Homo sapiens: one gene and its partner. The protein of the gene in region 1 purifies or fractionates together with the protein of each later gene. This does not show direct contact. Each region holds a gene or a part of one and is shown on either strand. Other genes may lie near its edges.

Region 1 (5,576 bases):
CAGATATCTGTAAACCACATTTATCACTAAGAATTTAATTGATCATTTATTTTAAGTAAACCATCCATTTTTAAAATATTTTATTTTCCCACTTTTAGGGCCCTAGGGTTGGGAATTTAATTGATCATTTATTTTAAGTAAACCATCCATTTTTAAAATATTTTATTTTCCCACTTTTAGGGCCCTAGGGTTGGGATGAGAAACATTTTGGTTAGAATAGAAAAATTTGTAATATATATATGTATATATAAGGATGCAATATGTATGCAATATATACACACACACATATTGCATACATATTGCATCCTTATATTAATGATATCAGTAGTATGATCACATTTTCTATGCCCTAATTAAGCAAAAAACAAAACCAAAACCTTTTTTTTTGTTTTCTGTTTCCAGTTAACATGGTAAATGTTTAATTTTATGTCAGCAAATGTAACATTGCTGAGTCTTTTTTTTTCTTTTACCTCAAAAGACAACAACAATAACAACAAAAGTCCAAAACAAAACAGTGCAAGAGCCATCATTTTATTATTTATAGAATGTTTATCTTGGAGGGGAAATAAGTTAGCTAACAGAAATGCTTGAAAATAAACATAATTAGGCAACTTTTATATTTCTTCTTTCTGAAGTACTTCATATATCCATAGCAATAATGAAAATGTAAATCTGCATAAATAATGCCATACTCTTGTAACATACTTTAAGATGTAAAATTCAAATGAAATGATTTATAATTTCCATGACAGTTTTATAGTCAATATAAGAACAACTTATGATAACAATGAAACTTCAAAAAAATTTATAAAACTTTTTGAACATCAGAATTGGTTTCCTTTTTATGCCTTTGCTTAGCGGCCATATTTTCAAAACAGCATTAAAACAAACACTTGATTCTTTAAAAACCCAAGTATTTAAAAAAAACCTAAAAGCATTAATGTTAACAACTTCCCATTGTGTGCTAGGAAGAAAACTGCATTTATGATTAATTTGCAATTTTAAAGCACCCAGGACCCTGAAATGCTATAAAAATTCTTATTGGAAACTATACTTATTTTGATACATCCTTCAAAGAAATTGTGAAAATAAATATAAACAGCTCATCAGTTCGTTAAAATACAAGTCTGAAATTACTGTGTTCTTCAAAAAGGTATGTAGTCATATGGAAACAATATTCACGAATGTGATTAAGAAAAGGAAAGAAGTTGTCCCTTGAATATGAAAGAATAATAATAAAAATATTTATTTTCAAGTCATGTTTTAGATTTCAAGGTCATCAGTTATGAGAGACACCATGTTTTAGGATGGGTCAGGAAGCAGGGGAAGGATTAATTCTTGATCCTCATTCTTTCCCTAAGACCAGGGAAGTTTTCTGTTTGTTCATTTGGAAGACCATTTGTTCATTTACTAAAAAATTTTTTGACTGTTTAGAATGTGCTAGGCACTCTGTTGAATGTGTCATGGTATGGGCAAGTGCCCACTTTAGGCAATCTCCACCTACAGTTATATTGTATTAAACCTATTCTATGAAAGGACATGGTGTGTCTAAGGCACTTAACCAAAGCACAGCATACAGTAAGTGCTCAATAATGGAGAGTTATTATTCATGTTTTATCCTTTATAGCTGTTCTCATCTACTGAGGAAAGAGTTTAACTTAAAATGTTAAATTCAAAGGGGATGATTCATCATTTCTATGATGGTTTTATAGTCAAAATAATAGAACAACTTATACTAATGAGACTTCAAAAAATTTTATAGAAGTTTTTGGCCACCAAAATGGGTCTCTCTTTCATACTTTTGCACAGGAGTAATAATAAATAGTTCATGCATTTCTCCTGAAAACTTTATGAATAGATTATTTTAATAAAACTATGCAGAGCAGAATTACATGGCAACTCACTATACTAGAAACACATATATCTTCAGGGTGACTAGATTACTCTTGAGATAAAATGGGATTATTCTCAAATACTTTAAGTCATGTAAATGTGATCAGAAACACCACTTTTTGTTATGGAATTGCTCAGTAAATTTACTGTTACCAACTTTGGAATCCAACTAACTATATGTTTCAAAGAACCATCTGAAAATAAGCAAAGAGATATAAACTTTAAAAATTAAATGTAAGCACATAACATTTAAATCATTTCTTGGTAAGTAGGATATCTAGAGCTGTGCTATTTAATATAATCCCTAGTCGTATGAGTCTATTTAAATATAAGTGAATTTAGAGTAAATATGCAGTTATTCATTATACTAGCTACATTTTAAGTGTACAGTAGCTGTATGTGGGTAGCAGATACCATTTTGAACAATACAGACATAGACATTTCCAATCATCACAGATAGTTTTCTTGGACAGTGTTGTTCTAGGGTATTTTAAATAAAGGAATATTTGATGTTTACTATTTATAATGATGACCGCACAGAAAATGATCTAAGAAGCTTGGTGTTTCATAGTCTCTTTGCGTCTTTTCACTACCCCTCTCAAATCTTGATGAGATTATTTGGCATGCTCTTTGACAGACAAAGGCTACTTTATAATAACTTTAATTTCAATACAAATTAAAAAACTAAGCAAAGTATTTACTCAATGACTTTTAGGAAACTGGAGTTTTGAATATTGTCTTAAAGAAATGGCTAATCAATGAGATCAATGCTTTCTCTGCAGCACCTTCCAAACCTTTCCTTCTGAGCACCCCGCCATTCTACTCGGCGTGCTGCGGTGGGTCCTGTCGGCGCCCTGCATCCTCCACTGCTTTTCCAAGTAAGTTTTTATCCTTCATCAGCAATGCCTCAGTTATTCTGTAAACCAAAGCTGCAGGATTTAATGTGCTCTGGAAAACTAATTGGTAATGCAATGGCAAGGAGCTAATTCCTCACTAAAAGTCACAGCGATCTTATTCAAGAGGTTTCCAGAGATTTATCAAACCTCAGCACACTGAGCAATTGTGAGCAGTTCTAATGGCATTGAAACCCAGGGCCGACACATCACCGAAAGCAACTTGTTTTCCATTTGATATAAAAGATCTCGGAGGGACCAGTTTGGCTTTTCTGAAATGTGTAGCAACACTCCTTTAAAGAAGAGGAAAAAGGAAAGGAAGGAAGGCGAAAAATTGTGCTGTGTAAAATTTCCATTCCACTTAAAATGTAACACAGAAAGTCACTAAGTGTCTATGGAGAATAATTTAAAATTGTCAAGATCGTGAGAGGAGATAAATCTCTCCTTTTTGGCATCTTGAAGGTAACCAACCAGAACTGTTGGAAATATTTTCAAGAGAACTCTTCTCCCAACATTGTAAAAGCAACATTTTAGTAGAGTCTGGGGGTGGAGTGAGAATGACAGACTTTCAAAATCTCGCAGTGTGCACACACACACTCTCACACTCAAAGGAAAAATGCAGGCATAAAAGTAAAACTCCCCTTGGTCTTGAGATTTCTGGATTAGATGAGAACATCTAGGCAGGGAATTTGAGTTTATGGTAAAGAGGTCCAGTGGAAGGGTGCATTTCTTTCAGTTGCCCAAGAGAAAACACTTACTCAGCTTAACAGCTCTGTCAGGTGAAAAGTGAAATTAAGAGTTGAGTCAGGCTCTTGTGCCGAACCCCATCACGGTTGAATTCAGATCGCTGCTGCCTCTGTGCATGTGTTTTGGGAATGGTTCAGGAAAGCAGTTGCTCGACAGAATAATTCCTGACAAGTGAGGCAGCAAATGCTGGCCGTTTAATGAGCTGCAGGCTCTAAGCATCTCTTTAGGGGGCTGATACTTTCCCACAGAGCACTTTACATGGCTGGGGCCTGGCCACAATGGGTGACAGACCCGTGACCAATCGTCACTTTCACTCGACTCATCCACACGCGACCTCACCACGATTTTTCACTCTGCAGATGAACTTTAGGAACCATTTCACATGGAAAAGGCTTGGGCAAGGGTCAGTTGCCCTTTTGTATGGTCATAAAGCAAGGCTCTGTGTGTCAGTCTTTTCTCCTGTCTCACATTCCAAGTGAATTTCTGGACACCATTTAAAGCACTTGACTGAAAAATAAAGCAGTAAATGAAACTGACTTTTATAGACTCATTCTAGCTCATCTTCCCATATAACCCTGTCTACCTGAAAAGGGATTTAGTGGATGAGCTGAGTGTATACAGGGACTTGCTGAATACATAGGGCCCATTATCAACTGTGGGGATTCTTTATTAACCGGGACTGATACACTACTATTTTGGAAGTGACCTATTAATTGTCCATTTAACTAGAATGTATTGAATTCAAACAGCAAAATAGAAACCATGACTAAACCTTTTACTCGCTCCTTCAAGGTGGTCTCCTGTGAGGGCAATTGAAAACTCTTGTGCAAATTAAGGAGACATTTATCACCATATATTAGAGTATCAGGAAAAGACTTCTGGAGTAGAGACCTAAAACCCAAATATCTGATACCGTATCATGATGGCATCGCTGTGGAATTAAGTCTTCAGTGTTAGATTTCGGGAGTGGAGATCAAAAGAGGTCCCACACTTAGCTTCAGTTATTTCATCATGATATGATACTGGGTTTTTACTTCAGAAAATCTCTGGCAGTCCAGGTAAGTGGAAATGGACAAAAAATTCCATGTAATAGGTGGACAGACATTCATGTGCGTGTGTGTGTGTGTGGGTGTGGGTGTGTGTGTGTACTTATTTTATAGGGACGTTTGAAGAGTCTCAAGCCATCAAAGTTTGGGCCAGTTTACTAGATAGAAAAGAAAGGTTGGGTCAGTTCAGTAAATAGAGCATGTAAAAGTAATGCTAAAGATGTTTTCTAGATGACTTTATCTTCTCTGCTGCTTGAGAAATTACTTTAAGCAGGTCTTATTTTTCTCCATCTGCTTCCCAGTCCTTTCTACTTTGTGCCTTTTGCATAATTCTTGTAAATTATAGTGTTTATCCCTGGAGGTTTATGAAGTCCTGTGTTTATCTTTTTCTTAAAAATAAATATAGAAGCTGAAAATCAGTACAGCTCTAATCAAGGATAGAAAATGATGCACTTGGTTTGGCTTCATTTCTAAAGTTGGCATTTTAAAACAGTTTAGAGATCCCACAGGTGATTTTAATAAATGATAGTTTCTCATATTATTAGTTATAACTCTAAAATGAATTTCATATATTCTTATTTATAATGTTCATTTGTATTAACAGCAAATAATAACATGGTAGAATTAAGCTGTCAATAAAGAATTTTACATAAATAACCAGGATACCAAGGTACAGTTAATAAGGTTTACATCTGTACAATAATCTTCTTTAATTTAAGGCATTTACTAGATTTTCTTTTTTTCTCCTTTTTCTAATAATAAGAATGATTTTTATGCCCAGGTCTTTGTATTATTTAACATTGTACAAGCAAAGGAAAATGTACTGTCCAAATAAACTTGCATTAAGTTTCAGCTCAGACAGCCAAAATTAGGTTTATATTAAAAAGTTTAATAACTGATTAAATCAATGGCCCTCATCATTGTTTCACAATATTGCTTCACTCTTTCCAAAGAGTAGGATCAGACCAGCACATTTTTAACTACGCGAGTGAAGTAT
Region 2 (3,583 bases), on another chromosome or scaffold:
CTTTTAGTGTTGAACATGGTCGAGTTCACTATGAGATGCATGGTGTTTCCTTACTGATTGTTAGAAAGAAACCGTGCAACTCCTATCCATCCAAAATAATTTAAAAGTACAGGAAAGAGTACAGAAATCCCTGGCCTCTCCAGAATCTGTGTTCCAGAGGGACTGTTTCTGTGTGTCTTTTCAAAGCTTTCTCCTTGCGTCTTACAAACGTACATCCAATGTTCCATCCTGTTTCCACCTCATAAGCGTTTGCCCGCATCACTCAACCCTCTCTGTGAACCTCATTCTTCATGTAGGCGGGGCTACCCATGGGCCGCTCTGTTCCCCTGAGACCTGGGGAGGGCAGGCAGGGGCAGGCTGTGCGTCCTTCTCCATCGCCATCGGTGTGGGTTTGCAGTGAGGGGCAGGGGGGCTGGAGTTGGCACCTGGAGGCCCTTCCCGACATGAACCCTCGGTTCTTCCCTGCCACAGAGGACTACGGGCACTACGAAGAGCTGCCAGGGGAGCCTGGGGAGCACCTCTTCCCTGAGCACCCTCTGGAGCCCGACAGCTTCTCTGAGGGAGGGCCCCCAGGCCGGCCGAAGCCAGGCGCCGGTGTCCCTGACTTCCTGCCCTCAGCCCAGAGGGCCCTGTACCTGAGGATCCAGCAGAAGCAGCAGGAGGAGGAGGAGAGAGCGAGGAGGCTGGCTGAGAGCAGCAAGCAGGACCGGGAGAATGAGGAAGGCACGTGTCCGCCCCAGGGGCCGGGGCACAGGCCCCAGGCCGCTGTGCAGGGGAGCGGCGGTGGTGGGGTGTTCCAGGTTGGGTTTCCTGTCAGGAAGGAGCCCATGGCTAGGGAGGACCCCTGTCCAGGGCCATGAAGCCGGGCTGGGGCTGCTGCATGTCCCTGAGAAAACTGGCAGTCAGGGGTGGCTTTCTGTGTTGGGTTCAGGAGAGACCCTGATCCCATGGAGTAGGATGGAGGGCTAGTTCCTGGAGGAGACAGTGGCCAACAGGATTGACCGCCTGTGCCCTGCCAGAGGAGGCTTTAGGGAGACCCTCACAGCCCCTGTTTTCCTACCGTGTTCTCAAGGAGCCAACAAACAAGAGCTAGTCATTGAAATTAACCAGTAATAATCATAGTCACGAGCCACCGAGTCTCAGTTGCTGCATGGTTGACTTAGTGGTGTCCACTTTGGGGTAAAATGACAAGTGGTGTCTAGATCCTGAAGCCAGAGGCCACAGGTGGCCCTGACTGTAGCGCAGGAGCCAGTGGGACAGCAGGAGGAGGGGCCGCTCCCCTGATGGCCCAGGCTGTACTGGCCTAGGTTTTGCTTGAGCCCATGTCTGAGTCTGCCCAGCCGGCCCTGCCTCTTATCAGCTGGTGACTGCGGTTGGTCCACACCAGCCCCTCCCTGGGACATGGGGACATCACGAGCCGGTTTGGGGTCAAGTGTCTCTGAGCCCCAGGCCCAGCCAGAACTGAGTCAATGGTGTCTGCTACCAGGACCTCCAGAAAGAGGTGCCCACAGCTGGACTTGCCACAGTGGGGGCTGAACCAGCCCGGAGGTGGGCGGGAGGAAACAGCAGAGCTCTGGGTTAGGAGTCCTAGCCCGATCCTGGCCCTGACTCCAATGTAACGGCACTGTGCTTCTGTTTTCACATCTGTCAAATGGGCATGATAGTATCACTACCTCCTGGGGTGGTTGTGAGTTATTTAAATAAAACAAACTACTTAGTGCAGTGCCGCCACTGAGGAGAGCTGGGGAGCATGGCATAAACCGAGCGCCTTAGCTCTCTGGGTCTCCTCAGCCGCCCACTGTGGGGAGGGAGCCTTAGAGAGGAGGACCTGAGGTTCTGAGAGGCACAAGCAAAGGAGCTGCTCACGGTGGGCTGCTGTGGGATCCAAGAGGGCGGGTGGTGGATGCGCCCACTCACCCCTCCCTGCTCCTCTGTTCTTTCCCAGGTGACACCGGAAACTGGTACTCAAGTGATGAGGATGAGGGTGGAAGCAGTGTCACCTCCATCCTGAAGACCTTGAGGCAGCAGACGTCCAGCCGACCCCCGGCTTCAGTTGGGGAGCTGAGCAGCAGTGGGCTGGGGGACCCCCGCCTCCAGAAGGGACACCCCACAGGAAGCCGGCTGGCTGACCCTCGCCTCAGCCGGGACCCCAGACTCACCCGCCATGTGGAGGCTTCTGGCGGGTCTGGCCCAGGTGATTCGGGACCCTCCGATCCTCGGCTGGCTCGCGCCCTGCCCACCTCCAAGCCCGAAGGCAGCCTTCATTCCAGCCCTGTGGGCCCCAGCAGTTCCAAGGGGTCTGGGCCGCCCCCAACGGAGGAGGAGGAAGGGGAGCGGGCCCTGCGGGAGAAGGCCGTGAACATTCCCCTGGACCCACTCCCCGGGCACCCTCTGCGGGACCCACGGTCACAGCTGCAGCAGTTCAGCCACATCAAGAAGGACGTGACCCTGAGCAAGCCCAGCTTCGCCCGCACCGTGCTCTGGAATCCCGAGGACCTGATCCCCCTACCCATCCCCAAGCAGGACGCAGTGCCCCCCGTGCCCGCGGCCCTGCAATCCATGCCCACCCTGGACCCCCGGCTGCACCGCGCTGCCACGGCAGGGCCCCCCAACGCCCGGCAGCGCCCGGGCGCCTCCACGGATTCCAGCACACAGGGCGCCAACCTCCCCGACTTTGAACTTCTGTCTCGCATCCTCAAGACAGTCAATGCCACCGGCTCCTCGGCCGCCCCCGGTTCCAGCGACAAACCCAGTGACCCCCGGGTGCGGAAGGCCCCCACCGACCCTCGGCTGCAGAAACCCACAGACTCTACGGCCTCCTCCCGGGCTGCCAAGCCCGGCCCTGCTGAGGCGCCCTCTCCCACCGCCAGCCCGAGTGGGGATGCCTCCCCACCAGCCACCGCTCCCTACGACCCCCGCGTGCTGGCGGCCGGTGGACTGGGCCAGGGCGGAGGGGGCGGGCAGAGCAGTGTGCTGAGCGGTATCAGCCTCTACGACCCGAGGACTCCCAACGCGGGGGGCAAAGCCACAGAGCCGGCTGCTGACACGGGTGCCCAGCCCAAGGGTGCTGAGGGCAATGGCAAGAGCTCGGCCTCCAAGGCTAAGGAGCCCCCGTTCGTCCGCAAGTCTGCCCTGGAACAGCCAGAGACAGGGAAGGCCGGTGCTGATGGGGGCACCCCCACGGACAGATACAACAGCTACAACCGGCCCCGGCCCAAGGCTGCTGCAGCCCCCGCTGCCACCACCGCCACCCCACCCCCCGAGGGTGCCCCACCCCAGCCCGGGGTGCACAACCTGCCCGTGCCCACCCTCTTCGGGACGGTGAAGCAGACACCCAAGACGGGCTCAGGAAGCCCATTTGCTGGGAACAGTCCGGCCCGCGAGGGTGAGCAGGATGCGGCATCCCTGAAGGATGTTTTTAAAGGCTTCGACCCCACGGCCTCCCCCTTTTGCCAGTAGTGTCCAGCCAGAGCTGCGGCTCCAGCCACCCTTCCTAGGGTGGCATTCAGGGCAGCACCCAGGGTAGGGAACTTGGGGGCAAGGGGAGGCAGGCTGGGTGTTCCTTTTTTCTTTTCTTTTTCTT

What was found. The genes of interacting proteins can lie anywhere in the genome.
Region 2: the proteins of DBX2 (region 1) and ZC3H4 purify together in Homo sapiens (affinity purification with mass spectrometry; one large-scale study listed by BioGRID and IntAct). This does not show direct contact.

What each region holds. Positions count from the first base shown.
Region 1 is NC_000012.12:45,033,214-45,038,789, reverse strand, and holds part of DBX2 (homeobox protein DBX2), read left to right. Parts: intron 1-2,675; coding exon 2,676-2,771; intron 2,772-3,544; exon of another isoform or gene 3,545-3,747; intron 3,748-5,576.
Region 2 is NC_000019.10:47,066,232-47,069,814, reverse strand, and holds part of ZC3H4 (zinc finger CCCH domain-containing protein 4), read left to right. Parts: intron 1-471; coding exon 472-723; intron 724-1,945; coding exon 1,946-3,459; 3' UTR 3,460-3,583. UniProt on the Homo sapiens protein: RNA-binding protein that suppresses transcription of long non-coding RNAs (lncRNAs). LncRNAs are defined as transcripts more than 200 nucleotides that are not translated into protein.